Regions from separate parts of the Homo sapiens genome. Here region 2 is linked to region 1. The links come from fine-mapping of genetic effects on gene expression. Tissue or cell type: prefrontal cortex. Region 1 holds a variant in brackets; the other region holds the start of a gene. All regions are shown on one strand. Distances are from middle to middle.

Region 1 (2,758 bases):
TTCAGTCTTGATCTTCCGGGCTCAAGCAGTCTTCTCACCCCAGCCTCTTGAGTAGCTGAGACCACAGGTGCACTCCACCACCCCTGGCTAAATTTTTGTATTTTTTGTGGAAACAAGGTCTCGCCATGTTGCCCAAGCTGGTCTTGAACTCCTAGGCTGAAGCGATCTGCCCACCTCAGCCTCCCAAAGTGCTGGGATTATAGGCATCAGCCACCTTGCCCAGCCACTGTTCTTTCTTTCTGTCTCTGCCTTCTTTCCATTCAAGTTAGAAAATAATCTTCCTGTCAGTCTGCCTCCATTCCAGTGATGGGCACATAAATATAACTCTCCTGGTTGGAAAGCTTTCCTCTTTCTGAGTAACTGACATTTCTTGTCTTCTTGGGGCTATCATGTGCTAATACCCACAATAACATCAAAACCTTTCCTGTTATCCCACTGCCCTTACCTATTGCTTTTGTACTTTTGCTTTACTTTAGCCACACCATGTTACCATATGTGCCTCTTCCAGGCATGGAAGCTACATATAACACCAGCGGCAGTCAGACGAGGTAAGCACATGAGACTCAGCGTGTGTGTGCGCGTGTGCGTGTGTGTGTGCAAGAGAGAGAGTGCATACATAGGTGGTGTGGATCGTCTGTGGCATGACTTTGACCTCTTGTCCTTGTAAACCTGATCTATGTCTCTCAGATAAACATTTCTGAGATTGAAATCTGTTCTATTACAAGCAGCAACTAGGAATGTGTAATAATACAATTTGTTAAAAAAAAAAAAGTGAAAATCACTAACCAGCTTATTGTACCAGAAGTCCCCTCTCAAGCTATTTCATGTCTTAACAGCCAACTTCAGTCCCTGGACAGGATTGATCTTATCTGAGTACTGTTCATTTGTGCGGTTTACCAGATATCTTCCTCACCCAAAAAGTCTGTTCCTTTTTACATTTTTCCTTATAAAATTCCATAGCAATAAAATGGATTACACATTCTTGTAATTTTTTTACATATGTAGATACAGGCTATGTCTGGAAGTGACTAGAATGCAGGTTGACTGGATATATTATTCTCTGGAAAGAAAGAAAAAGTATTGAGGCCTAGATGTTAAGAAGTTGAGGCTGGGCGTGGTGGCTCACACCTGTAATCCCAGCACTTTGGGAGGCCGGTGCGGGTGGATCACCTAAGGTCGGGAGATCAAGACCATCCTGACCAACATGGAGAAACTCCGTCTCTACTAAAAATACAGAATTAGCTGGGCGTGGTGGCGCATGCCTGTAATTTCAGCTACTCGAGGGGCTGAGGCAGGAGAATTGCTTGAACCCGGGAGGCAGAGGCTGCATTGAGCCGAGATCGTACCATTGCACTCCAGTCTGGGCAACAAGAGCAAAACTCCTTCTCAAAAAAAAAAAAAAAAA[T/AT]GAAGAAGAAGAAGTTGAATGTGCTGGAAGTAGAAAGGGAACCCCTCTCATATCTTCTTTCTCTTCATGGTGCTAGGCTGGAGCCTCCATTCCCTGCCTTGGTACCAAAGTCTTGCTTGGTAGCAGAATCAGCTGTCAGCAAGCTCCTGCTTTCAGCCTCTGAGTTCCAGGTTCGTGGATTGGATGAGCTGGATGGTGTGAAAGCAGCATGCCCCTGCCCACAGAGCAGCCCCCCAGAACAGAAAGAGGTAAGTGTAAAGTGCTGGTTGGGTCAGATGATGGTGGCATTGGAGGTGGCCATTGTCAACTCACATCGCATTATAGCTACAGACTGGCTTCTGAGTATCTTTACGTACCACCTTCAGTGTCAGCCGAGTTCTGGAGAGTACTAAGCCAGGAGTTTTTCTCTTGGCCAGTAAAGGACACAGTGGATTTTTTAATCTGCATTGTTTTCCAGATACTTTTTTCTTGCCAACAGCATGTAACAGTGTTTAGAGAATTGGACGAAAGAGCTGCTTTGTGCATTCAAAGAAGATGAGTGGATGGTGATGATGTTCAATTTTGCAACGTCTGTTGTCTTCAACAGTTGCAAACTTTCATGTTGACAGTCTCAATATCTGAACTGAATGTACAATTCTTGTTTTGATGATATGAAGGGAGTAGTTGCTTAAAACACAGCAGGGGCCAGGCACGGTGGCACACGCCTGTAATCTCAGCACTTTGGGAGGCTGAGGCGGGCGGATCGCTTGAGTCCAGGAGTTCAATAGCAGCCTGGGCAACCTGGCAAAACTGTGTCTCTACAAAAAAGACAAAAATGAGCTGACTGTGGTGGTGCACACCTGCAGTCCCAGTTACTCGGGAGGCTGAGGAGGGAGAATTGCTTGAGCCCGGGAGGCAGAGTTTGCAGCAATGACCCCAGATTGCATCACTGCACTCCAGCCTGAGTGACAGAGTGAAACCCCATCTTAAAAAAAAAATAAAAGGCCGGGCACGGTGGCTCACGCCTGTGATTCCAGCACTTTGGGAGGCCAGGGCGGGCGGATCACCCGGGGTCAGGAGTTCGAGACCAGCCTGGCCAGTATGGTGAAACCCCATCTCTACTAAAAATACAAAAATTAGCCAAATGTGGTGGCACATTCCTGTAATCCCAGGTACTCTGGAGGCCGAGGCAGTAGATTCGCTTAAACCCAGGAGGTGGAAGTTGCAGTGAGCCTGGATTGCACCACCACACTCCAGCCTGGGCGGCAGAGTGAGACTCCATCTCAAAAAATAAATAAGGCCAGATGCGGTGGCTCACATCTGTAATCCTAGCACTTTGGGTGGCCGAGGTGGGCGGATCACCTGAGGTTGGGA
Region 2 (2,758 bases), 42 kb after region 1:
AAAGGGCTTAAAAGGAAGAATGTTTAGGCCAGGTGCGGTGGCTCACGCTTGTAATCCCAGCATTTTGAGAAGCCGAGGCGGGCGGATCACGAGGTCAGGAGATCGAGACCATCCTGGCTAACATGGTGAAACCCCGTCTCTACGAAAAATATATATAAAAAAATTAGCCGGGCGTTGTGGCGGGCGCCTGTAGTCCCAGCTACTCGGGAGGCTGAGGCAGGAGAATGGCGTCAACCCGGGAGGCGGAGCTTGCAGTGAATCGAGATCGCGCCACTGCACTCCAGCCTGGGCGACAATGAGAGACTCTGTCTCAAAAAAAAAAAAAAAAGAAGAAGATGTTTAGGACATGGTTTTTGGAGTCAGAGACGTATGTTCAAATTCTGGCTTCACTATTTTATAGTCTTTGGGCATATGCCCTTTATGTACCCTTGAAGATGTTGCTTAACCTTCCTGAGCCTCAGGTACCTCATCTTTAAAATGGGGATAATGTCTCGGGCCTAGCTGCGAGTCTCTAGTCAGTGCTCAGTAAAAAGTAGCAGACATGATTGAAAACTCGTTTTCCTCTTACAATTGAAGATAGGAACCTTTTCAAGAGCAAGCACCAGGCACCGAATTTAACGACTGGTTGCATTTCTAGGTGATCCAAGACCGTTTGCCCCCGGTCTCCCTGGCAGCACAGCGGTAGGAGATAAGAATGATATGACACCATGCTTGCAAAGTGCTCACAACACACTCCGGCGCTTAAAAAACGAGAGCTGAGTCATGGATGCCCAGTTTCCCCATCCGTAAAATGAGCAAGTTCGATCACTTGAAACGACATTCTTGGATCTTGGATGACTCAGATTTTCCAGGTACATGAGGAAAGGCACCCAGAGGGAAGGAGGAGGAGTGGCAGTGCTGCGACCAAGCCCAGGTTTAGCGAAACCTACAGCTCCACTAGTTCCCCTACCTCCGCAGGTGCCAAGCGGGTTAGGTGGGGAGTAGCCACAGGGCGGAGCTTAGTCGGCTCCGCCCCCAACCCGCGCTTTTCTCATTGGCCCACTGAACTCGAGACTCGTGACGCCTTAAGCGTGCGCCCAGCGTGTGAAGGGGGCGTGGCACGCTGAGAAGGAGCAGACAAGATGGCGACGTCCGTGGGGCACCGATGTCTGGGATTACTGCACGGGGTCGCGCCGTGGCGGAGCAGGTATAGCAGCGCGGAGAGACTACCTTGGGGCGTGGGGCAACCTGGACCAAGCTGGGGTCTGAAGAGAGATGTTTCTGTGTCGCGGGCTCGCTCTGAGGCGAGCTCGGGTGGAGACGGAGCCACCTTCACCTCGAGCTTAGGAGCAGGTGCGACTGCTCCTGCGTAGGGCGGTCCGGATTTACTTAGGGTGTGGCCTAGAAGCTCGCGCTTTGCCCTTTCCAGCTAGGTGGAAGTTCACGAGGGACAAAAATCAGATGAAATAGGCTACCTGCCCGTCTCTTGAGTCGAGGCAGGGCTTTCAGATGTTCAGATGCCATTTTCTCGTGTGTTCGTTTTCGTAGAAGGAATGATGTCCTGTGGGAAGGACACTAGATTGAGTGTCAGGCAACTTTCATTTCTGGATCTTAGTCTTTGAAGCTAGAGGGTTAGGTTAGGTAATCTCAAAACAATATGTTATGGGGCTAGAGTCTTGGTTACCCTTGTGACCCCCAGCTGTTAGATTCTTAGAAATGTGGGAGACTTGAGGGGTCTTCTGAGTCCAGCTGTCTCTCTTTGGAGTTAATGAGATTGAGGCTCCGAGAGAGGGAGGGATTTGCTCAAGTTCACCTAGCCAGTTTGTAGCAGAGCCCGGACCCCCATCAAGGTACCCCCTCACGCGACGATCTTTCTCTCAGGCTGCCCGCCGTGAGGGCAGTGGTTATACAGAAAATAGCTTAGAGCATTTGGAGTGTCGGAAAATGGATTAAAATGTAGCTGTGATTCAGAGTCGGCTGCCTGGTGTCATTTCAAAGAGCTAAGATTTGAGAGATGCGCCATACTTGTGTGTTTCCTACAGGGTTCATTTTGTCAGCGTTGATCAGAGGATAACCTATTGTTTTGGGAGGAGACGGACACTGGATTTGGACTGAGAGGGAACAGAAACCATCATTGGTCTTGTTATGAAAGCGTCACTCTTTCATCATTAACTGTACAGAAATGATTATCTCTCAGGAGAGGGCTCTGCATTGTGGTGGTAACTGTTAGAATTTGGGCAGGAGACTTTGTTTTCAATGTTATTACCAGGCGTGCTGTGTATGAGTCAACCCTGAATTCATTTAAAGTGTGTCACAGGCTGGGCGCGGTGGCTCACGCCTGTAACCTCAGCACTTTGGTAGGCCAAGGTGGGTGGATCACTTGAGGTCAGGAGTTCGAGACCAGCCTGGCCAATGTGGTGAAACCCTGTCTCTACTAAAAAATACAAAAATTAGCCGGGCATGGTGGCAGGCACCTGTAATCCCAGCTACTTGGGAGGCTGAGGCAGGAGAATTGCTTGAACCTGGGAGGCGGAGGTTGCAATAAGCCAAGACTGCGCCGCTGGAGTCCAGCCTGGGCGACAGAGTGAGACTCTGTCTCAAAAAAATTAAAAATAAATAAAGTGTGTCACGAATTGAAAGGACTAAAATGAGACTCTTAAAAAATTGTTTTTTGTTGTTGTTATTTGTTTTGGAAGTCAGAGCCTCACTCTGTTGCCCAAGAGGGAGTGCAGTGGTGTGATGATGGCTCACTGCAGCCTCCACCTCCTGGTCTCAAGCA

Alleles and levels. Positions count from the first base shown, and alleles are read on the strand shown. Sizes are in standard deviations (SD) of each study's normalised expression.
For the expression in prefrontal cortex of the gene that starts at base 1,115 in region 2, T is the low allele of the variant in region 1 and AT is the other (moderate effect, 0.47 SD a copy in BrainSeq).

The links. PIP is the estimated chance that this variant, and not a neighbour inherited with it, causes the effect.
Region 2: it holds the start of PISD, and the variant in region 1 is fine-mapped to the expression of PISD in prefrontal cortex (BrainSeq, PIP 0.95).

The regions. Positions count from the first base shown.
Region 1 is chr22:31,702,445-31,705,202 of GRCh38, reverse strand. PRR14L (proline rich 14 like) reads left to right here. Exons shown (of 9, transcript NM_173566.3): 5 at 477-548; 6 at 1,482-1,653. Among named protein-coding and RNA genes, the nearest start is that of PISD, 42 kb to the right of the region's middle. The variant T/AT (reference allele first, on the strand shown) is at 1,406.
Region 2 is chr22:31,660,572-31,663,329 of GRCh38, reverse strand. PISD (phosphatidylserine decarboxylase) reads left to right here and starts at 1,115. Exons shown (of 8, transcript NM_001326411.2): 1 at 1,115-1,186. The coding sequence starts at 1,122. RefSeq lists enhancers at 1,075-1,374, 1,615-1,664, 882-2,081, 2,055-2,194, 1,490-2,383 and 1 more.